Linked DNA regions of Homo sapiens. The protein of the gene in region 1 purifies or fractionates together with the protein of each later gene. This does not show direct contact. Each region holds a gene or a part of one and is shown on either strand. Other genes may lie near its edges.

Evidence for each region.
Region 2: the proteins of CORO6 (region 1) and KAT14 purify together in Homo sapiens (affinity purification with mass spectrometry; 2 studies listed by BioGRID and IntAct, with this or other methods). This does not show direct contact.
Region 3: the proteins of CORO6 (region 1) and UACA purify together in Homo sapiens (affinity purification with mass spectrometry; 2 studies listed by BioGRID and IntAct, with this or other methods). This does not show direct contact.
Region 4: the proteins of CORO6 (region 1) and PPP1R12C purify together in Homo sapiens (affinity purification with mass spectrometry; one large-scale study listed by BioGRID and IntAct). This does not show direct contact.
Region 5: the proteins of CORO6 (region 1) and ZNF318 purify together in Homo sapiens (affinity purification with mass spectrometry; one large-scale study listed by BioGRID and IntAct). This does not show direct contact.
Region 6: the proteins of CORO6 (region 1) and POC1A purify together in Homo sapiens (affinity purification with mass spectrometry; 2 studies listed by BioGRID and IntAct, with this or other methods). This does not show direct contact.
Region 7: the proteins of CORO6 (region 1) and GABPA purify together in Homo sapiens (affinity purification with mass spectrometry; one large-scale study listed by BioGRID and IntAct). This does not show direct contact.

What each region holds. Positions count from the first base shown.
Region 1 is NC_000017.11:29,614,262-29,617,087, reverse strand, and holds the end of CORO6 (coronin-6), read left to right. Parts: intron 1-45; coding exon 46-150; intron 151-240; coding exon 241-386; exon of another isoform or gene 387-387; intron 388-751; coding exon 752-809; intron 810-912; coding exon 913-1,143; intron 1,144-1,230; coding exon 1,231-1,356; 3' UTR 1,357-2,326; downstream 2,327-2,826.
Region 2 is NC_000020.11:18,158,363-18,161,862, reverse strand, and holds part of KAT14 (cysteine-rich protein 2-binding protein), read right to left. Parts: intron 2,780-3,500; coding exon 2,598-2,779; intron 44-2,597; coding exon of another isoform or gene 41-43; coding exon 1-40. UniProt on the Homo sapiens protein: Component of the ATAC complex, a complex with histone acetyltransferase activity on histones H3 and H4. May function as a scaffold for the ATAC complex to promote ATAC complex stability. Has also weak histone acetyltransferase activity toward histone H4.
Region 3 is NC_000015.10:70,655,559-70,659,058, reverse strand, and holds part of UACA (uveal autoantigen with coiled-coil domains and ankyrin repeats), read left to right. Parts: intron 1-1,931; coding exon 1,932-2,003; 3' UTR 2,004-3,500. UniProt on the Homo sapiens protein: Regulates APAF1 expression and plays an important role in the regulation of stress-induced apoptosis. Promotes apoptosis by regulating three pathways, apoptosome up-regulation, LGALS3/galectin-3 down-regulation and NF-kappa-B inactivation.
Region 4 is NC_000019.10:55,104,138-55,107,637, reverse strand, and holds part of PPP1R12C (protein phosphatase 1 regulatory subunit 12C), read left to right. Parts: intron 1-3,500. UniProt on the Homo sapiens protein: Regulates myosin phosphatase activity.
Region 5 is NC_000006.12:43,363,148-43,366,647, reverse strand, and holds part of ZNF318 (zinc finger protein 318), read left to right. Parts: intron 1-1,207; coding exon 1,208-1,356; intron 1,357-2,428; exon of another isoform or gene 2,429-3,233; intron 3,234-3,500.
Region 6 is NC_000003.12:52,095,424-52,098,923, reverse strand, and holds part of POC1A (POC1 centriolar protein homolog A), read left to right. Parts: intron 1-2,211; coding exon 2,212-2,355; intron 2,356-3,500.
Region 7 is NC_000021.9:25,741,472-25,744,971, forward strand, and holds part of GABPA (GA-binding protein alpha chain), read left to right. Parts: intron 1-89; exon of another isoform or gene 90-101; 5' UTR 102-127; coding exon 128-204; intron 205-3,500.

The DNA.
Region 1 (2,826 bases):
CGGGAGGGTGGGGCAGGGCTGGTCACGCCTCCTGTGCTCGGGCAGAACAACTTCGAGGAGCCAGTGGCACTGCAGGAGATGGACACAAGCAACGGGGTCCTATTGCCCTTTTACGATCCCGACTCCAGCATCGTCTACCTGTGTGGCAAGGTGCTCACGGCCGGGCAGGGAGAACAGGGCACTGGATGGAGATGTGGAGGGCCTTGTCCGGGCGCGCCCCTGAACCGACTGATTTTGCAGGGCGACAGCAGCATTCGGTACTTTGAGATTACCGACGAGCCGCCTTTCGTGCACTACCTGAACACGTTCAGCAGCAAAGAGCCGCAGCGGGGCATGGGTTTCATGCCCAAAAGGGGACTGGATGTCAGCAAGTGTGAGATCGCCCGGTCAGCAGCCTTGGCCCCTCCTGAACACCTACCCGCCTCTGTCCCCCACTCATGTCGGGTCCTAGCCACGGGGCTTCCCCAGTAATGCAGTGCTTTGGAAAAGCGGGGCGGGGGGATAAGACAGCTCTGTTTCAGTGCCAGACCCACCGCTCACTAGCCTTACATTCTCAACTTCAGTTTCCTCATCTATAAGATGATGGTGAACACACCATCAGGGTGTTTTATTGCAGAACCAATAATGTGTGTAATGTGCAATATGCATGGTAGGCGCTGAGCAAGTGTTGGCCTCCAACCCCCTTGGTCTTAGACAGGAGAAGTTAAGGACGTGGAAGTCTGCGAGGGTGCTGAACCCTGCTCCCTTATAGGTTCTACAAGCTACACGAAAGAAAGTGTGAACCTATCATCATGACTGTGCCCCGCAAGGTGAGGGGCCGGGAGAAGGGTTGGGCAGGGCTACGAGGCGGAAGGGAGCGGAGCAAGCCCCGCACCCTCTCACGCAAGTCCTCCTGTCCACCCACCCCCGCAGTCAGACCTCTTCCAGGACGATCTGTACCCGGATACGCCAGGCCCGGAGCCGGCCCTAGAAGCGGACGAATGGCTATCCGGCCAGGACGCCGAACCCGTGCTCATTTCGCTGAGGGACGGCTATGTGCCCCCCAAGCACCGCGAGCTCCGGGTCACGAAGCGCAACATCCTGGACGTGCGCCCGCCCTCCGGCCCCCGCCGCAGCCAGTCGGCCAGCGACGCCCCCTTGTCGGTAAGATCGGCCCTGCTGCACTCTGGCCCAATCTACATCTCCCCCAACCGCCCCTATACGACACGGCCTCTCTGTCCTCCGCCCCAGCAGCAGCACACCCTGGAGACGCTGCTGGAAGAGATCAAGGCCCTCCGCGAGCGGGTGCAGGCCCAGGAGCAGCGCATCACGGCTCTGGAGAACATGCTGTGCGAGCTGGTGGACGGCACGGACTAGCCCCGCGCGCCAGGCAGGCGGAGCGGGGCGGGGCGCACAAGCTCGGCCCCGCCCCGGCTTTTAGTCCCGAACTCCGGACCCCGCCTTCTTGGGCTGGGCCCGGGGGCGGGACTGGGGAGGGAACTCCGCCCCTCGCGGGAGACCAGAACTCTTGGAGCTTAGGGGAGACCCACGTCGCTCCAGCGGAGGCTGGACTGCGAGCCTCGTCTGGGACTCGGCTGGAGCTGGCCTAGGGAGGCCTGGGGTAACCTGGGGGGCTCAGCAATGGTGCTGCACGGCGAGGTGGTGTCCCCCTTTGTCCTCCGCCCAGGGCAGGGAAAGTGCTTAGTATTAGCGTGATGCTTGGGGTTATTGGAGCCTGAGCTTGACCTCAAACGGGTGGCGATTTGATGGGTACCCCCAGGCTGGGGAAAATGACAGCGCTTCTCCTAATCAGCTCACTGGATTCCATCACCCTGAGCGGTAAACCAGATGGGCGTCACCCCAGTTCTGCAGACACATACACAACCCGTTTGCTGCAGAGCCGGACCCAGTGGCTACACCCACAGCGGTCTGTGGTAGAGAACTCTCTTCCTTCTTTCCACCGACAGGGGCGAGGGCTGCTTCCTCGCGGCAGCCCCCGCGAAGAAATCTCGAGAGAACTGGCATGAGGAGTTAGGTTCATCACAAATACACACACACTGCCCCCAACCCTCTGCCGTTGCCTCTCTCAGAAAAACAAGACGTACTGAATGAAATATTTTACTAAGCGTTCAGTCTGTGCCTCCTGCATGGGTGGGAGTGAGGGGAACGAGACCCCCAGCCTCTGCAAATGCTACCCCCAGGCTCCTGGGAGACCTGGCGATGCACTCCTGGGCTCAGGGTCCATCAGGCAGCCTCTTACCCTAGAGCTCTCTCCACTCTGAGGTTCAGAAGGACCCCAACCCACACCGTAGGCGTTCCCCCCAAGTAAAGTTAGGTAGCAAAAGCCTCCGGTATGAAGCCTCTTTTATTTGTGCCTCAGAATCAGTCTGGTGCCCCTGGCATCAGGGAAGGGGGTGGGAGGAACAGTTTCTCTTTGTTCTTTTCTTCCATCCCTCTTTGTGTCCCTTCTGAGCCTCACTGGCTGAGCCGGGAAGGCCAGTCCCAGACAGGCCCGGGACAAGGGTGTGCGGTGGGCCCCTGCCCCTGGCGGGGTCTGTGCTTCTCTGGGTGGGTGAGGTGGGGCAGGGGAGAGCCGGGGGTTAGCACCATTGGATGAAGGGTTTTAGAGTCAGTCTCCGTGTGGGGGCAAGTGGGATGTACAACCACAGAGGCTAGCAGCAGCTGGTGGGAAGGGGTGGGGGTGGCGCCAGGGCCCTGGGCGAGCCCTTTGTGTCCAGTCTACTTGGGTCTAGTGCTTACCCCAGCCCAATATGCTCCCCACTCTCCGAGGCACCATGAGGGAGTCAGGGCTTGCACAGGCCAGGGGGCTACGTTGGACACACTCCC
Region 2 (3,500 bases), on another chromosome or scaffold:
CCCTCAACAGTAATGATGGGATCTAAAGTTGGTTTTGAGGCTGCTAAGAAAGAATAAATACAGGCTGAGTATCCCTCATCTGAAATGCTTGGGCACAAGCATGTTTTGGATTTCAGATGTTTTCGGCTTTTGGAATATTTGCATTTTACTTATTGGCTGAGTATCCCAAACCCAGAAATACAAAATCCGAAATGCTGCAAATGAGCATTTCCTTTGAGCGTTATGTCAGTGCTGAAAAAGTTTCAGATTTTGGAGTGTTTTTGATTTTGGATTTTCAGATTTGGATTGCTCAACCCATATCTAAATTTTAAAATAACTACTCAACTTTAGTTTCTTTTGCTAATTTATTATTATGAGTAATATCATGTTCAATAAAGAGAAATGTTCAATGAATGCCCTAAACTAAAAAAGACTTAGATATCTCTTGAGAAAAAAGAAGTTATACTGCAAATTTAAACAAATAAATACTATCTTTCACCTACTGGAACTGGCAAACATTAAAAGTTTAGCCAGGCGTGGTGGTGCACGCCTCTTAATCCCAGAACTTTGGGAGGCTGAGGTGGGTGGATTTTGAGCCTGGGAGGTGGTGGCTGCAGTGAGCCAAAAAAAAAGTTTGATAAAGCTCAGTAAATGTATGGGGAAATGGGCATTTTCATGGGCATTTCAATGGGTACTTTTTTTTTTTTTTGAGACAGGGTCTTGCTCTGTCACCCAGGCTGGAATGTTAGTGGTGTGATCTCGGCTCACTGCAACCTCCGCCTCCCGGGTTCAAGCAATTCTCCTGCCTCAGCCTCCAGAGAAGCTGGGATTACAGGCATGCGCCATCACGCCCGGCTGATTTTTGTATTTTTGTACAGATGGGGTTTCATCATGTTGGCCAGGCTGGTCTCGAACTCCTGACCTCAGATGATCCACCTGTCTCGGCCTCCCAAAGTACTGGGATTACAGGCATGAGCCACCATGCCCGGCCTTATTACAGTTTCTTGGAGGATAATTTGGCAATCCTGATTAAAATTTTGAATGAATATGCCCTTTGATGTAGAAACTCCAGGAATTTATCACATTTTCACATGTACACAAATTTGTAGAATTGTAGCACTGTTTAAAGTAACAAAAGGTCAGGCATGATGGCTCATGCCTGTAATCCCAGCACTTTTGGAAGGAGAGGCTGGAGGATCACTTGAGCCCAACAGTTCAAGACCAGCCCAGGAAACATGGCGAGACCCTATCTCTATTACTTTTTAAAAATGTTTTAATTAAAAAATAAATAAATAAAATAGCAACAAAAAGGTAGAAACAACCAAAATGTCCATCAACAGGAGAATGGTTTAACAAATTATCACATAATTATATAATGGATGTAATGAAATAAAATAGGGTAAATCTACATGTACTGTCATGGAAAGATGTCCAAGACATACTGGTAAGTGTGGCAAAAATGGAAAACTCATAATAGTACGAGTCCATTTTACTTTTTTAAAAAACTAAGAAAATGCTTAAATCTGCAGAGATCTTTCTGAAAGTATTCACAAAAGACAACAGTGGTTACTCTGGGAAGTGAAATTGCAGGCCATAGGCAGGTGGGGGAACTTTCATACTTTACACCCTTAAGTACTATTTGATTTTCTTCCCAATCATATTTTTAAAATTTTAAAAGCTCATCAGCCTGATCCGGTGGCTCACCCTGTAATCCCAGCACTTTGTGAGGCCAAGGCAGGTGGATCGCCTGAGGTCAGGAGTTCGAGATCAGCCTGGCCAACATGGCAAAACCCCGTCTGTAATAAAAATACAAAAATATTAGCTGGGCATGGTGGCATGTTATTTGGGAGGCTGAGGCACGAGAATCATTTGAACCTAGGAGGCAGAGGTTGCAGTGAGCAAAGATTGCACCACTGCACTCCAGCCTGGGCAACAAAGCGAGACTGTACCTCAAATAAATAAACAAACAAGCAAACAAATAAATATAAAAATTTAAAAGCTCATTAAAAGCTTTTTAGATTATAAAACCAGATCAATATGTGATAGTAAGAAGTCACTGTTAACATCTTTTTAAATATGAAAATGGCATTATGGTCAGGCTGCAAAAAGGAAAGAATCCTGATCTCTTAGAGATACATACTAAGATATTTAGGAATGAAATGTTGATTCCTGGGATTTGTTTCTAAATAATCCAATTGTAAGAATGGGGAAGGTTGGGGAAAAGTACTGAGGATTTAGATAAAATGAGACTGTCAGGAGTTAATGTCAAAGTGAGGTGGAAGGTACATGGGAATTCATCATGTTATTTATTACGGGAATTTTAAAATATCTCTTCACCTTTGTGAGAAGTTTAAAAACAAAAACCAGATGGAAAACATTGAACCTTTCAGATACCCTGGGAAATTTATAAAACTGATAGCTTGATTAGGAAGTGATAAAATGTTTTTATGTGGCATTTATTTCTAGCACACACACAAGTGTCATCACAGAAGTGTTAAACAGAGTAGCTCCAGAGAGGCCTGCGAGCCATGCCCAGTGGAAGCAGGAGCGTCTCCTGGGCTCACACCTGCTTGGCTCTGGTCTGACTAGCAACTTTTGTACTGTTCTCACAACAGTACCTTTTATTTTCAAAGTAGAGGCAGACAACTTCTCTCCTTCAGGTTTCATCGTTGGGGGCTTGTTATGAACAAGTTTCCACCATCCTGGCTCTCCAAATTCCTGAGCACCTGAACGGAAGTACATGGGACTTCCCACGCTGAGGCAACCTGCCACGGTGCTCCACCAGGTAGACGTCTTTTTCCTAAAGAGTCCAAGAATTTAAAAATGATTGGCACTTTTGCTCATTATACAGAAAAGACAGTCTGTGTATACTGTGACTCCTGGCCTGCAACATGCAATGGCACCTCCAGCTACTGAAGGAGCAGAGCACGAGAGGCAGGAGAGAGGCTCTGGAGTTCGCCTGCTTCAAACCCTGGCGCTACCAACTTCTAGCAGCCTCGGTTTGTTCATCTGTAAAATCAGGATAATAGAACTTACCTCACAGGGTTGCTGTGAGGATTAAATGCAATAATTCAAACAAAGCACGTGAAATACTTCTCATCACAATCATCACGATTATGGAATTCTACAGGCTAATTTTAATTAAGTTGCTTTGTTATGTGAATTAAGCACAGCTCCCAAGAATAAAGCATACAAAAAGTGTAACTCCAAGGCTGGGCATTTTGTGATAGAAGTTAACTGGCTCCAGTAAATACCTCATTTTACCCGAGGAGTAGCACACATCTCTCAATCTGATCCTATCTGCCTCGATGCACTAGAGTGGTAACAAAACTATGTGGTATACTCCACAAACACAGAGAGCACCTACTGCACAACAAAATAACAAAACATGCAAAATGCCAACTATCCGGGTTCCCTAACGGAAATTCTTTCAAGGCGACTGTTCTATTTCCACCTTGAAAAGATACATCAATCCCCGGAAATCCTAGAAGACAGTCTTTCACAAGAAGACCAGTCTAACA
Region 3 (3,500 bases), on another chromosome or scaffold:
GGCTGAGAAACTCACTAGTATTGGCCATGAGAGGAAGAGGTTGCTCCTAATGAAAAATACAGCAAACTAACAAGCCTTTCCACTTTGTATAATATGCACTTCCGGAATTTGAAATTATTTTCTACTGTGTCCTAATGAAACATAACAAAAGCAATTGACATCAGAAATAGTCTTGCCTTCTGGCATCATAAAGTTAACTAAGAAATTCAGTTCAGTCAACTATGGCTAATGTTTGAAATGTAAACATCCTGCTGTTATAGAAACAGATTTTGGAAGCAAAACTTTTCATATTAATAGGAAGTGTTGTGCTGAAACCTATTTAAGTACTCCAGGAAAAAAAAAATGTGTGTGTTGGGAGGGGGTGCGGTATTTTAATAAGCCCACCATATTGAGTTGCATTTAATCAACTCGTGCCACCATTTTAAGTTTAAAGTATTTTTTAAAAATATAAATGGCTAACATGCATGTAAAAAAGATACTTGGTTTCATCAGTAATGGGGGAGATGCAAATGAATAAGAACATACCATTTTTCACCTGTGGGACTGGCAATATTACACAAGATTATAGTCTATCGTGTTAGCCAGAGTGTATGGGAAATGGGCATTTTCACTCCATTGATGGTAGTGTACAGATTGTTACAATCTCTGTAGAGGGAAATTTTGTAGTACTTAACAGAATTAAAAATTGAGACTGCTTTTTGACCCAGCAATTTCTTCTCTAGTAATCTTTCCATTAAGATTGGAAATACCTTAAATGTCCATCGTTAGGGGAATGGGTAAAGAAATGTAATATGTCCATGCAGTGGATATTATACAATAATTTAAAATAATTGGGTAGCTCAAGGGAAAGATTTCTGTGACACTACATAAAAAAACAAGTTACAAAATAGTATGTGTTATATAATCTTATTTACGTAAAAACATAAATATGGGTTTTTTAAATCAATTACTTAAATTTTAAATTTTTTTAGGAGACAGATTCTTGCTCTGCCATCCAGGCTGGAGTGCTGTGGCACAATCATAGCTCATACAGCCTCAACTCCTGGGCTCAAGTGATCATCCTCCCTCAACCTCCCAAGTAGCTGGGACTACAGGCACATGCCACCACACCCAGCTAATTTTTTTTTTTTTTTTTTAAGTTTTTGCGACAGTCTCCACTGTATTGTCTAGGCTGGTCTTAAACTCCTGGCCTCAAGTGATCCTCCCACCTTGGCCTCCCAAAATGCTGGGATTGCAGGTGTGAGCCACCATGTTCAGCCATCAGTTAGTTTTCTAAACAAACAAACAAAAAACCTCAGCAGCAACAACAACAGATTTCCTTGTAGTTTACTTTGTTCATTTATAACTTATGCTGCCCCTATCATCCAAGGCTGTTATTAAAAAAGAGAAAGAGGGAGGTTTATCCATTTGTTTTCTGGTAATGGAAGTTAGAGCAGCTGTTGTGCACTAGTCTTTTTGTTTTTTCAGATGGGGTCTCGCCATGTCACCCAGGCTGGAGTGCAGTGCCACAATCTTGGTTCGCTGCAACCTCTGCCTCCCAGGTTCCAGCGATTCTCCTGTCTCAGCCTCCCGAGTAGCTGGGATTACACCCGTCTAATTTTTATATTTTTACCAGAGATGGGGTTTCGCCATGTTGGCCAGGCTGGTCTCGAACTCCTGACCTCAAATGATCCACCCACCTCAGCCTCCCAAAGTGCTGGGATTGCAGGCGTGAGCCACCACGCCCGGCCGTGCACTCCTTATTAATTGATCTTATTTTCATGATAGGGCTGTACTCCCTTTTCCAGTAATTCCTTTAGAAATCACAATGATGAGGATTTAGCATTTGATGAATCAATGACTAGTTATGCTCTGTAAAAGCTTTATCTTTAGAATTCTTATGTAAACAAAGATGACATAAAATAATGCTCCTCTTTCTTCTTTCTCCGAAGGGTCACATGGATGAAGATGTTCAGGAGGCTCTGCTCCAGATCATACAAATGCGGCAGGGGCTTGTGTGCTAGCCGTTAGCACTGACTGCCAGTATCTGTTTTATCTTGCTGGTGCTGAACATTCTTTGTGCAACTCCATGGTCTTTCTGGGCCTTACTGTGCTGGTATAATTAAAATAAAATATATTTTGTTCTATTGGTAGGTTTTTTTTTAAAATTAGATGAATATGTTAGTCTTTTTCAATATCAGTTTGAATCTTATTTTCTGTATGTGTTAATTTTACAAATAGGCAAACAACATAACTTTGCCCTGGATTGACTACATATTTTTAAACCTTCAAGTCCCTAATAAAACATGAGCCATCTGAGTGAGTCCATATGAAGCGAGGTTAGGCTGAAATAATTGCTTAAAGATGTCTTTCAGAGAAATTAATTTGGTTGGTGGCCACTTTTAGGTGGATCAAAAGACCTTTCAGATCCTCAGAACCTTGAGACATAATACAGTTGTGAGGAATGTGTTGTAACTTGGCTGGCCAAGTTACATGTTACAGTATCTTTACTGAGGTAACTTCATTAGTGTCTTTGGCCTTTTTTGTAGGTATAGATATTTTTTCTTTTTACACTAATAACTTTTATGCCTTTTAAAATAAATTTATTTTCATAAATGGTTTGCAGTGCTAAATTACATTTAGATTAAGAACAGGCAGGGGTGGAATATATCAGGAATTTATAATAAAATTGCCTTAATCTCTACAACAGTATCTTAATTTTTACTTGCGGTGACTATTCTTGCCACAATATTGGAGAATAATGATAGATGATATACTAGATTTTTCAAAGTGTGAAAACCTTTAGACTTTTTTTAGCAATTAGTTTGACATTCGCTACTATAGTAACCAAGCACTCATTATATATGCATCCTCCAAATGTTTCATGCTTATTTATAGGAAAGTTATATTAATGAGATTAATAATGTGAAATACAGTTTTCCTGCAAAATTAGCATTAGAGAATTGATTTTAGATAACAGATTTTTAAAGTTTTAGAGAAAAGTACAGTAATACAGTAAACTGAAAGAGTATATAGATAGCAATAAAATAACATAAGTGGACATGTTTATAGTAAATACTCTGAAGTAAACAACCGTTTTTATTAACTGCATCTCATTAGGGAAAGTTTATATGTCTTGTTATTTTTTATTAACATTTTATTTACCATTCAGAGTGAAAATTACTAATTTGAGTATTAACAAATAACTGAATAAATGGATCATTACAGTTAGGTTTTCTCAAATTGCAAAATTTGCCTTAGCAATTATCTTTGAACATCCCGAACCAGATTTTTAAATCCCATTTTTGTTTAATAGGGTAAAAATACCATCAAAATGACTTCTCATACCAAAGAATAAGCCATCATATTTTTTCGGTGTTGAAACAACATTGAAAGTCAGAATTGGATTTGTTTTTAATTCTTTATACGGTTTACATAAGCAATATCTGTCTCTTTAATTATTATGATTAATGTCGTCCTTCAGCATGAGTTCTGTTTCACAAGTTTTGGGCCACCTATTT
Region 4 (3,500 bases), on another chromosome or scaffold:
CACCTATGAGTGACAACATGCAGTGTTTGGTTTTCTGTCCTTGCGATAGTTTGCTGAGTGATGGTTTCCAGCTTCATCCATGTCCCTACAAAGGACATGAATTCATCCTTTTTTATGGCTGCATAGTATTCCATGGTGTATATGTGCCACACTTTCTTAATCCAGTCTATCATTGATGGACATTTGGGTTGGTTCCAAGTCTTTGCTATTGTGAAAAACAGCAGCAATGGAGTTTCACTCTTGTTGCCCAGGCTGGAGTGCAGTGGCATGGTCTTGACTCACTGCAACCTCTGCCTCCCGGGTTCAAGCAAGTCTCCTGCCTCAGCCTTCCAAGTAAGTGGGATTACAAGCACCCGCCACCATGCCCAGCTAATTTTTGTATTTTTAGTAGAGATGGGGTTTCACCATGTTGGCCAGGTTGGTTTTGAACTCCTGACCTCAGCTGATCCACCCGTCTCGGCCCCCCAAAGTGCTGGGATTACAGGCGTGAGTCACCGTGCCTGGTCACATTTTTTTTTTTTAAAGGCAGTCTATGGCCTTATGTAGCTGAAGTCCATATGGGCTCTAGGCATAGCTTGATCCAGGGGCACAAGTGAAGTCCAGAGCATCTCTCTATCACTCTGCTGAACTCTGTTGGCTTCACTCTTAGACAGGTTCTCTCCGTGAGGCACTCAGCATGGGTCCTACTGCAGGCCCATATCACAGCCAAAACACAGCACCTCTTGCCCTGTGCGTGATGCTCACTGGGCCACCTTGGTCAGATGGCAGCTCCTGAGCCCATCACTGTTGCAAAGGTGACAGGAAGGCCTGGTGATGTGCGCACCCTGGAGCCAGGCTATGGGCCCGGTCACATTGAAACCATATGGGGCAAAGTGTGGGTGAGGAAAGTCAAGATGAGGTCACAGGGGAAGGGAGAATGGATTTTCGTAGGCCCAAGCAGCAGCTGTGCTGCAGGGACACGCAGCAGCACCATGTCCTGTGCAGAAGGGACCCTCCCTGGCCACTTTGCACAGGGGCATGGAACTGGCAGGAAGAAGACATGATGTGTTTTTGAAACATTTGAAGCCAGCTCACTTGGAATTCCAGCATCCAAGTCAGCTGGAAGAGGGGGAGTTACCCTTGGAGGCAGGCGGAATCGACCATTGGATAGCTCCAAGTGCTGACAAGGGCGGACACGGGAGCTGATTTCTGCCTGGTGGGAAAGGTGATGATTCCAGCTACTTTGGGAAGTGGTTGGTCAGCATGGATTATAGCCGAAGGCCCCAGCTTTGCCTTGTTCTAGCAGTTCCACTCCTGGGCAGCCCGAGAGAGGCCTTCCCAACCATGGGCAGATGTTCATCATAGTATTGTTTGCAGTAGTAAGAGGTCGGAGCCCACACCAAAGAGGATGGATCAATCACTAAACTCTAAATGAGTGATCTAAGCAGGGGTCAGCAAACTTTCTCTGTAAAGGGCTAGACAATGAATGTTTCAGGTGTTGCGGGACACACCATGCCTGGCACCACTATTCCACTAGTGCTGTGGAGCGGGAGACTGCTAGGGATGGTGTGTGAATGAATGGGAATGACTGTTCCATCCCACGTTTATTGACAAAAATCGCCTTTCAGAATAGGCAAATCCACAGGGACAGAAAGATTGCTGGGTGCAAGGGGCTGGCGGAGAGGGAGGTCTGAGAAGTGACTTTTTTTTTTTTTTTAAGACAGGATCTCACGCTGCCTCCCAGGCTGGAGTGCGGTGGAGTGATAATGGCTCACTGCAGCCTTGACCTCGTGGGCCCAAGTGATCCTTCCATCTCAGCCTCCCAAGTAGCTGAGACCATAGGTGTGCACCACCATGCCCAGCTAATTTTATTTTTCTAGAGACAAGGTCTCCCTATGTTGCTCAGGCTGTTCTCAAACTAGTGGGCTCAAGTGATCTCCCATCTTGGCCTCCCAAAGTACTGGGATTACAGGCATGAGCCATGGTGCCTGGCTGGGAGTGACTTCTTCTTGGATACAGTATCCATTTGGGATCATGAAAAAGCTCAGGAAGTAGATAGTGGTGATGGTTGCATAATATTGGAGGTATCCTAAATGCCACTGAATTGTGCACTTTAAAACAGGGAAGTTGGTAAATTTTATGTTGTTTATTTTACCACCACCACCACAACAAAAGATAAAGAAAACACAACAGGTGGTCAACACCCACAAGCTATAGCTTTCTGACCCCTGGGCAAGGGCTCTGTCTACAGATACAGACAGATCTCAGCAACATGTTGAACACAAGAAGCAAATTGCAGAAGGATGTGCAGCAGACATGCAGAGGGCGCTGACTGTGGTTGAATAAAAAGCCAGTCACCCTCCCTTCCCCTCCCTGAATTGAGACCCATTCGGCTATAATAGGATTGAACAGTTGGTGACTCCTTTAAAGAAATGACACAGCCAGGTGTGGTGGCTCATGCCGGCTTTGGGAGGCCAAGGCAGGAGGATCCCTTGAGCCTGGGAATTTGAGGCTTCAGTGAGCCATAATTGCACCACTGTACTCCAGCCTGGGTGACAGTGTGAGGTCCTGTCTCAAAAAAAAAAAAAGGGTCAGATGCGGTGGCTCCTGCCTGTAATTTCAGCACTTTGGGAGGCCGAGGCGGGTGGATCATGAGGTCAGGAGTTCAAGACCAGCCTGGCCAACATGATGAAACCCCATCTCTATTAAAAATACAAAAGTTAGCTGGGTGTGGTGGCGTGTGCCTGTAATCCCAGCTACTCAAGAAGCTGAGGCAGGAGAACCGCTTGAACCTGGGAGGCAGAAGTTGCAGTGAGCCAAGATCATGCCACTGCACTCCAGCCTGGGTGACAGAGCGAGACCATATATATATATATATGGCCTAAAGTTTACTGAGCAAATCCAGTGCTCAATTACATCTAACTTTTCCTGTCACTACCAATATAATTTTTTTTTTTTTTGGAGACGGAGTCTCACTCTATCACCCAGGCTGGAGTGCAGTGGTGCAATCTCACTGCAACTTCCGCCTCCAAGATTCAAGAGATCCTTCCGCCTCAGCCTCCCAAGTAACTGGGATTACAGGCATAAGTCACCATGCTGAGCTAATTTTGGTATTTTTAGGAGAGACACGGTTTCAACACGTTGGGCAGGCTGGTCTCGAACTCTTGACCTCAGGTGATCTGCCCACCTTGGTCTCCCAAAGTGTTGGGATTACAGGCATGAGCCGTTGTGCCACCCCCCAATATAATCTTAATCCAGCATCTTCATACATTTTATCACCATTACCACTTCTGTCTATATATGTTACATATATAGGAGAGATATATATATAGGTTTTATATATATAGGAAATGTGTATATATAGGTGTTATATATATAGGAGATGCATATATATGTTATATATATATTATATATATAAATATTTTTTATATTTATATTTTTGTATGTGTGTGTGTGTGTATATATATATATATATATACTTTTTTTTTTTTTTTTTTAGACAGAGTCTCACTGTGTTGCCC
Region 5 (3,500 bases), on another chromosome or scaffold:
AAAAAATGTTTTGGTGTGGGGAGGGATTTCACTATGTTGCCCAGGCTGGTCTCAAACTCCTGGCCTCAAGTGATTCTCCTGCCTCAGCCTCCCAAAATGCTGGGCTTACAGGCATAAGCTACCATGCCTGGCCCGGGGAGTTAAAATTTTTGAGAGTAGTCAGGGAAGGCCTCCTGGGAAGGTGATTTTTGAATAAAGATCTGAAGGAGGTGAGGGTGTGCTGTGCAAGCATCTGGAGGAAAAATGTAGTCAGATGATGTCACTATCCTGTGTAAAACCCTCCTATAACTGTTAATTGCACTAAGAATAAAATCCAAATTTCCCAACTGTGCTTTCTGCCTATCTTTTCCTCTTCTGTCACTTTGCTGCAGCCACACCGGCCGCTTTTCTGTTACTTAAAGTATACCAAGCTCTATACTGAGGTGGTTCTTTTCTTTGCCTGAAACATCTTTCTACCTGTTCTTTGCAAAGCTGACACCTCATTCTTCAGGCCTCAGGTTATCACCTGAGAAAAACCTTTTCTAACCATCCTATCTGAAGTAACTCCTTTTATGGTACCATGTTTTAATGACTATAGCACTTACCAGAAGAATTTTTTTTTTCTTTAAACTTGTTTTTGGCTTACCTCCTTCACTAGAAGTATGTACACTAGAAGTAGGGTTCTGAGAGCAGGGACTTTATTCACTTCTCTTTTCCCATGCCCAGTAAGAATGAGAGGTCACCGTTTAGGAGAGTTAGAGGTATGGGCTTATATCTCTAAGAAAATGATAATTTTTAAAAAGTGCTTTATTTTTGGTATAGTGTCTTACCATAACCATTTCTCACCTTGTTGAACCCCAACTTTGCAGGGTTGTCTTTTGTTTTTGAGACAAGGTCCTGCTCATTGCCCAGGCTGAAGTGCTGTGGTGCAGTCATGGCTCACTGCAGCCCTGACCTCCCAAGCTTAAGCTATCCTCCCACCTCAGCCACCTGAGTAGTTGGGACCACACCTGGCTAATTTTAAACTTTTTTTTATAGAGATGGAGTCTGTGTTGCCCAGACTGGTCTCACATTCTTGCCTGGGCCTATACACCTCAGCCTCCCAAAGTGTTGGGTATACAGGCATGAGCCACCATGCCTGGCTAACTTTGTAACTAGGGAGGAGAGTTTTTGGATGTAGGGATGTCTTGACCCTATTGACTAACCATATTATCCTTTACTTTTGTAGAGACGCTCTCCTGGTCTGTGTTCTGACTCTTTGGAAAAGAGCTTAAGGATCACTGTTGGCAATGACCACTTCTGTGTTAGCACACCAGAACGGCGACGGCTTAGTGATCGGCTGGGGTCACCAGTGGATAATCTGGAAGACATGGACAGGTAGGCATCACCTAAGGCAGGGCCTACTATACTAGTACTTGAAGGCAGAAATGTTGCTGTTTTCCGAATGATATATTTGAAAGGATGGTGCCAGCTCTAAAGTTATTTCCTATGCCACATGTCCAGTACAAAATAAAACGCTGGGATAGAATTTCTAAGTGGGAGGAGTATAATGATGTGTAGACTCTGTTGTTGAATAAATTGTATAGAAAAAAAGACTTTAAAAAGGTCATCTGAGTCTGACTAGAAAGAAGAGGCTGAGGGGACATAATCAGAGTCCCCCAAATGAAGAACAGTTGAGATGGTATAGATTCTAAAACAGTGAAACTATGAGCAGTCCCTTCTCCAAAGAAAAGTTCTGGACAAAATGGGAAGTCTTTTTAAAATGGTGTTATTTTTTAGTTTATCCAGGCTGAAACAGATTCAGAAAGGGTTAGGTAAGTTCATGTCTAATATATGTGTGTATGTGAAGTAGATAAAGTATTAATAGAAAGCTAGAGACCTTCAAAAATGTTTAAGTTCAGTTATTATTTTACAACTATTGAGTGCTGAGGAAGGGTAGATACACTCAAGAGAGTTGGATATAGACCTCAGGTACTAGGAACTTAACCATATATAGATTGTAAATAATCACATTAGGTGTTTTTCACCTCACAAAAGTCAAAGTATGGATGGGAGTTCAGGAAAGCACTCTTTCTCAGAGCTGAGACCATGACTGTTATGGTCTCTGCCCAGCACATTGGGAGTTTTGACAAATGATTAGCAGTAGCAATAAATCAATGTAATGTAATTTCAAACTGAGACTGTCGCTTGCCGTGTTGCACAGAGCATAGCTAGGCGGGTGGGGGAGAGCTGGGCAGGAAGTCTGAGGACCAGTTTTGCCGTTGGTAATACCTAAAAGTTCCATTGGCTGTGGATGCAGTGAAGCAAGGCAGAACAGTCTTTTTTTTTTTTTTTTTTCAGGCTTAATTCACTTTATATTTCTTGTATAAAAACCCTATGTTGTAGCCACAGCTGGAGCCTACGTCCTCTGCACAGAGACTCTGGTGTGTGTCTTGATGAGGTGGTCAGTGAATTCCTGATAGGGAGACTTGGTGAATCCTGTCTCCTTCCAGAGGTCGGGGGTCAGGTAGCTGTAGGTCTTAGAGATGGCATCAAAGGTGGCCTTGGCGAAGTTGCCCAGGGTGGCAGTGCAGCCCCTGGCTGAGGTGTAGCAGTCATCAATACCAGCCATCATGAGCAGCTTCTTGGGCACGGGCTGAGACGATGCCAGTGCCCTTGGGCGCAGGGATGAGGTGCACCAGCACAGAGCCGCAGTAGCCTGTCACCTTGCAAGGAACGGTGTGGGGCTTGTGGATCTTGTTCCCCCAGTAGCCTCTGTGCACAGGGAGAATGGAGAGCTTGGCCAGGATGATGGCCCCGCAGGTGGCAGTGGCCACCTCCTTGGAGCACTTAACACCCAGACCGACGTGGCCATTGTAGTCCCCGATGGCAACAAACGCCTTGAACCTTTTCAACTGGCCAGTGTGGGTCTGCTTCTGCACTGGCATAATCTTCAACACCTCATCCTTGAGAGAGGCCCCCAGGAAAAAGTCAGTGATCTCAGATTCCTTGATGGGCAGGAAGAAGAGGTAGTTCTCCAGGGACTTGATCTTTATGTCCTTAACCAAGCAGCCCAGCTTGGTGACAGGCATCCACTCCTTATCCTTGGCCTTGCCTCCACGAGCTCCGTGGCCTCAGCCCTGTCCACAGCTGCAACCCCAGCCCCTCCATGGAAGCCACCACGGTTTCCCATCCCAGGGCCCCCGGGGCCTCTGCCCCCGCCCCACCCCCTCCACCGACATCATCTGCCATTTGGTGTTTTCTCAGAGAAGAAGCAAGGCAAAATAGTCTTATGTCATATAACATTGAAGCTTCTAAAGGGCTTCAAGATATGTGACTGTATCACTTAATTGAGGCAATAGCCCTTGCTCTTCTGGCTGCTTCTGTTTGGGGAAATTATTGAGTAGGTAGTCTGGGTAGGTGGTACATAGTGTGATTGTCTTCATTCTTTGCTGAGGTTTTGAGTTAGCTTCAGCAGTTCTTCTTAGGCCTAGGATGTCACTTCCCCTTTGCATAAACTTTGTTATGCACATGTGCTTCAG
Region 6 (3,500 bases), on another chromosome or scaffold:
CTCTTTGAGCCCAAGGGTCCATATCTGAAAAATAAGGTTAATAATGCCTATTGGGAAGGGCCATCATAAGGATGAAGTGAGGTTACACGTATTAAGTGAGGTGACATTAAATGAGGGCACACAGTGGATGGCAAGTAAACCATGGCGATTGCTGGACTGGTGGAGTGTTAAGTGCTGTGGTGTTTTCTGATGGGAGTGGGCAAGGAGGCAGGGAAATGGCTCAGGGCAGCACTAGAGTTTGAGGCTGGTTACCTTTAGACAGTCGTTTTCTGACTGAGCCTTAGTTCTCTTTATTGTCAAATGGAGACAGCCCATGAAAGTGTGGTATAGGTGGGAAAACATGGTGGCTGCCGCAACCCTCTGTTGTAAAGGCCACCTCTCCAGCTTGGAGTGCCATGGCCGCTGTCTTTAATACTCCCTTGGAGCTGGCTCAGCTTTGGCTCATCCAGGAGGGTTTCTATTGCTAAAGTCAGTGGTACTCACCCTGCCTCCCTGCAGCATCCACTGTGCTTCCAGAGGCTGAGCTCAGCACTGTCCATTTCTGGGCCATTCTGCAGAAACTCACATTTTCCATTCCCTCCTTCCTAAGCAGCCAGCAGCACCAGACTCTGGCCCATTCCATGACAATGCTGGCTGTGGGACAGAAGAGTTCCCTGCTCACACCCTTCCTCCAGTGGAAGAGTGTGTGTCTGCACTGCTAGGGGGTCCTCTGGAAGGAGTGGGCACAGCACTGAACATTTCTTAAGAAAGGCCTGCTGGTAGCTTCAGATAAGCACCTCTCACAGCCCAGCCGTTTGAAGGACTGGCCCAGTCTTCATCCCTATTTTATAGATGAGGAAATGGAGGCCCAGAGCTGGTCAGTGACTGTCTGAGTCACCATTCCTCACCACTGCACTCTGCTGTGTCTCCTGACAGAACTGCCTTAGTCTGGGGGCCACTGTGGTAGGCTGAAGTCTCTCCTGGCAAGGCTGGTGGACTTCTGAAATTTCCTTTTGGGATGGGCTTCTGGGTAAGCATTGAGATCTGAAGCACGTTGATTCCTGGAGGACTGGAAGAGACCCAGCCCTGATGGCCGAAGTCTTAGAAATGGCCACGGAAGTGGCCGACATGCTGATGATAGGTGTGTGGACACGGTGCTGCTCATGCTGTCAAGAACATCCCTCTGGCTCATGTCTCACATTCAAGTTCTCCTGTAGCTACCATGAGGGCCAGCATTTTTCCAAGTTCAAATCAGCATGCCCTTGAAAGTTTGTGATCTATGAGAATAGAATACTTACCTAATAAAGGAAAACATGCAGGTAGGGTCCATGTGCTGAACCACATTCCCACAGGAACAAGTCCACAGAGGAACTGCAGGCTCTAAGACCAGCCCTGCCCTTGGACATCCTTGGCTCCAGCATCCCGCCCACTGAACATGTGCACAGCACTTCTTCGGTCCACAGAAGCCTTTGTGCATAAGGCAAGGAGCTGACTTTGCTGAATTTAGGGGCTGAAGGGCCTTACGCAGAAACACTAAGCCCCTCACCTCCTGGAGTCCTATCTGAAGCAGCCCAGGGGTGCCTTTCCTGTGGAGTCTGATTCCTGCCAGCCATGTGCCAGCCTGGGACATGCACACAGAAATCTTTGTTTTTCCAGGGGATCTGGGCCAGGGTGGGGTTGGAACACCCCTCTCCCCGCCACACACACACTTCCACCAAGTTCTGGGCCACAGCTTCTTGGGCCTGGGAAAGGCATTTGTGAAGCCTGGCACACCCCCATGTTGAAGGGTGGGGAATTAGAGTTGAGCTGACCAGGAAGAGGAGGGACTTCAGGCCCAGGCCAGGCTTCAGCATCTCTGGACTCACCTGGATGCCTGCTGGTGGGTGCCAGCTGCTTGAAGATATGGGAGGCAGCTAGCTTCCCTGAGGGGCTCCAAGAGCAGGCTGAGGCCACTCACTGGCCTGCCTACCTGCCCTCCTCCCCAGGCCCCTTCCTGCCTGGATCACAAGGCATTCTGATTCCACTCCCCACTTAAGGCCTCTGCCTGGAAAGGTATGTGTGTGGACCCAGATGTGGGAACACCGCCACGCTGCTGTTTCTTACTGACACTTGGAGCTTACCTTCTCAAATTTGCTGGTGGTTTTCCCTTTCATCCTTTGGAGGGGCTATTCCTCTCACAGTATTTCTTCAAGCACTGGATAGACTGAGGAACTTTTTTCTTTCTGTCTTTAGCCAGAAGTGGACTTCCCTGTCCCCCCAGGCAGAGGCAGGAGTGTGGAGTCTGTGCAGAGCCAGCCCCAGGAGCCCGTGAGTGTGCCCCAGACACTGACTAGCACGCTGGAGCACATTGTGGGCCAGCTGGATGTCCTCACTCAGGTAGGCCACACTGTGGGTTCACCCGTCATCCCGTCATCTGCACTTGGTCCCGCATTTGGACCGTTTGAAGTTGGACAACAGGTGCTGGATTTTTAAAAACATAATTATAACGGACCTGTTTTCCAGTCCATATTAATGACATTGCAGAGCCTTCCCGGGGATCCTGGCTCTTGGAGCCATTCAAGCCCTGGCCAGACCACTAGACTCCAAAATCCCCAATGCTGGGTACTACTGGAGTGTGCTCACCTAGAGCTGGCCTGGGCCACTGAAGAGCTTTGAAAGAAACACTGTGTTTGTTTATTCCTCCCACTCTTTGCTGGATGGGCACTGCAGGGGCATGCCAGGGAACTGAGTAGTGAGTCAGGGCTTCTGAGAACCTAGGCTATGAGTTTGAGCCTGGACCTTTCCTTATCCTCTGTGCAACCTTGGGGAAATCCCTTTAGTTCACCAAGCCCTGGTATGTTTATCTGTAATGTGCTGGTGGTTGTGGGCTCTGCCTGCCACATTCATGGTGAGAATTAAGGGAGATGAATCTGGGAAATGTTTGGCCCATGCCTGGCCCTAGGTAGCTGCTCAATAAATGTTAGTTGTGGCCCTGACCACCCTCGTCACTGAGATGGATATGGGCCCTGCCCTCTGGAGCGTAGGTTGGCAGCCATAACACAGGCTCGTAGTGTAGCAGTTTCAGTAAGAGCAAAATCCCTTGACAAGAGGTGGTGGCCAGCAATAGGGGCATGCTTGGCAGGGCCATTTCACCCGAGGGAGGAAGAGAGGTCCTGGCTGCCTGTGGCTCTGGAGAGGCCATGGGCACGTCCAGGGAATGAGTGAAGCTCCAGGTGGCTGTCATGTGGATATGTGGTCTTGGGGTGGGGGGCAAGGCAGGATTTAGAGGTTCCCCAATTCCTCATCTCCTTGGCTCTTGAGGCCAGGCTGGGACTCTGCAGATCCTCCTCTACCATGCCAGCACATGGGTAGAGCGAGGCTGCAAGAGGGACACATGTGGCCCACGAGGAAAAGAGGTGTTAAAGCCAGGGGGTGGGGGATGGGGAAGCAAGGAAGAGTGGTCTCCAGTCCAGCTCACATGAAGGACGCAAAGGACCCTTGATGTCACTAACGGAAATGGAGCTGAGATGGCATGGTATCCT
Region 7 (3,500 bases), on another chromosome or scaffold:
TGCTTGGCGTTTGCTTTTTATTTGGATTGGGTCTCTACTTCTTGTGTGTCATTTCGTTTATGTGGATAGTTTTAAAATATCTTAAAAAGTCACTCTTGCAGGACTGATCCTTTGAAATACTCCAGCCATGACTAAAAGAGAAGCAGAGGAGCTGATAGAAATTGAGATTGATGGAACAGAGAAAGCAGAGTGCACAGAAGAAAGGTTGGTGTTTCTGAATTTATCATTTTTTTTCAAAATATCAATATACCTAATTAAAACCAGGAAACAAGTCATAGTTCTTTTGGACTGTCTTTTTTTAACTGTTCTCAGTATTTTAGGGAATAATGTATTGTTTTATTTCCTCTGACTTAATGTGGTTGTAGCTGAGAGGGAAAGACAGTTTTAAACTAATGGTAGTAAAAGGGTAAATGAAATCAAAAGCAATTGCTTTCAATAGTTTTCTCCTTTGGGGCATTTGATTCTTTATTCTTTTCCTCAGCACTGGTTGCTTTAATTTCAGAAATAGTTTAATTCAACCTGAACTCATTTAACAAATATTTATGAGTAACTGTTGTAAACAACTAATTGACAAGAATATGTGAATAAATAAGATACTAATCTGCCCTTATAAAGGCCACGTTGTATTTGAGGAGACATACAGGTATATGAGTACTTACGGGACCAGTACTAAGCATAAAATGTAGTGAAAAGTGTTAATTCTTGGAATAATAGTGGAATCATACTTATTTGAAAGGAGGACAGTAGTAATGAGTTCAGAATCCAGGAGAGAACATGGGTAGAAATAGACTTTGGGAGTCAACAAGAAGACTGAGGAAAGTAGTAGTTAATGGTCCCTATTGTACTCCGTGAAGTAGGAGGTGAGATAATAAGCTGAAAGTAAAAGGGATTGAAAAGTACTAGAGATCTCTGTGGAGTAACAAAGGTTTAGAAGTTTCTGCAGTGGAACTGGACAAGATAATTAAGGTTAAGGAGGATACTGAGTATTGAGAGTACAGTTGAGATTTAAAATCTTAAATTTTTAATAGAGCTTTTCAACTTGTTTATCCCAGTTTTTCCAGCATAAGAAAGAGGGAATGCATGCTTCTGTGGAATTTCATGTATAGATATTTGTGTTAGAAATTACCCCAAAATTCAGAAACTAAAAATGCGTAACATTCAGCCAGATGCAGTGGCTCATGCCTGTAGTCCCAACAGTTTGGGAGGCTGAGGTGGGCAGATCACTTGAGCCCAGGAGTTCAAGACCAGCCTGGGCAGCATGGCAAAACCCTGTCTCTACAAAACATACAAAAAAAAAAAAAAATAGCCTGGCCTGGTGACATGTGCCTAAGTCCCAGCTACTCTGGAGGCTGAGGTGAGAGGATTGCTTGAGCCCAGGAGTTCAAGGCTGCAGTGAGCCATGATTGTGCCATCGTTGTGCCATTGCATTCCAGCTTTAGTGACAGGACAAGGTGCGGTCTCAAAAAAAAAAAAAAAGCCCAACATTTTTTATTGCTCATTGTTTCTCAGAGAAACCTGGGAGCAACTTACCTGGGTGGATCTGTCTCGGGTATTTCATGAGTTTGCAATGAAGCTGTCAGCCCAGGCTGCAGTCTTGTAAAGACTTGACTAGGGCTAGGGTGTCTGCGTCCAAAGTCATGCTTGAGACTCTCAGCAAGATGCCTCAGTTCCTCATCACATGACTCTCTCTAGGGCTGCTCATGGGATGGCAGCTGGCTTCCCTTAAAGCAAATGGTCTGAGAGACAGAATGGCAAAGTAGAAAGCCCCAGTGTCTTTTTTAAGTAATCTAAGAAGTGACATATCACTTTGTCTTAGTCTTCTGGTCACACAGTCCAACCCTAGTACAGTGCTGGAGGGAACTTTAAAAGGGCATGAATTTAAGAATCATTGGCAGCCCTCTTGGAGTCTAGCATGCATATATTTATACATGCATGCACACAGATGGTCCACAAAGTCTAAAGTATGTACTATCTGACCTTTTGTGGATAGTCTAGGTTAGGCGACAGATTGGTAATTAATATGTATGACCTATGTGAAGGAGGCAGTAATTGTCGTTCACCTAACGTAGATTTTTGCTGTGCAAGAATTTAGGTCTAGTAGTATGAGATCATCTTTTTTTTTTTTTTTTAAGAGAAATTGGTACTTTAGATATTTGAGGTCTTCCAAGGTTTAAATGATAGCAATAAAAACTTTTTAAAAATGTTTAATGTTCAGCTAGTATAAAGTAGTTCTTTAAAAATTTGTTTTAAAAGTGACATTTGAATCTTAAGAGTAATTGTTACAAAAAAAGAAAAAACTGGCCTGACACAGTGGCTCATGCTTGTAATCCCAGCACTTTGGGAGGCCAAGGCAGGTGAATCACGAGGTCAAGAGATCGAGACCATCCTGGCCAACATGCCAGTCTCTACAAAAAATACAAAAATTAGCTAGGCATGGTGGCGCATGCCTGTAGTCCCAGATACTCGGGAGGCTGAGGCAGGAGAATCGCTTGAACTCGGGAGGCGGAGGTTGTAGTGAGCCAAGATCGCGCCACTGCACCCCAGCCTAGGAACAGAGCGAGACTCTGTCTCAAAAAAAAAAAAAAAAAAAAACCTACCAGGCTATAGCTGAAGAGTTTGGTAAAAAGGCTTACTTAAAGTTTTTTTTTACCTTAACAAATAACAATAGTAGACTAGTATTTTTAAATAAGCTTGTTTTTAATCATGAGGGTTCTATTTTATAAATTTTAAATGTTTTAAGTCAAGTGCAATGGCACACACCTGTAGTCCCAGCTACTTGGGAGGCTGAGGTGGGAAGATCAGTTGAGCTCAGGAGTTTGAGGCCGGCCTGGTGTGAACATAGGGAGACTCTCTCTAAAATTAAAATATAAATAAATATTTTAGAAAAAAGTTTAAGCTATATACATTCATTGAATATCATGTATGTATCTCATTTTACTTGTAATTTATGTGAAAACTTGACAGATTTTTAATGCATACTGTTTTTGACAATCACAAATAAGATTTAAATCATATTTAAATTAAACATGTTGGAATACTTAATTGAATTCCACATTCACCAATTCAGCAAATATTACTTAGTATTTGTCTATTTGGCCCTATATAAGGATTTGTAAGAGTTATGTAGGATTACTTACCAAAGATTTTAACCCTTTTGAATTCAAAGTGTGAAATAATATGAAAGAGCACTAAGACAGTTTTTAGGAAGAATATACATTTTTTTTTTAAACGTTGAGCTGTCCTGATTATAACCAGTTGTGTTCATATTAAATTAAAGGGAAAGTCTTTTATTTAACTTATTCTATTTTTATATCTTTCTTTTTTTTTATGTGGGGAAGGGAAATTGACTAGTAGAGATGGCATACAGATTTTGAGGAGACAATGTGTCTTCCTTTCTGGGTCTAAAATTCTTCAAAATAACTTGAAAATGTAATGCAAATGCAAACATAATGTATGTGCAATGTTTATATGTGTACACATACACACATATGTATGTACAT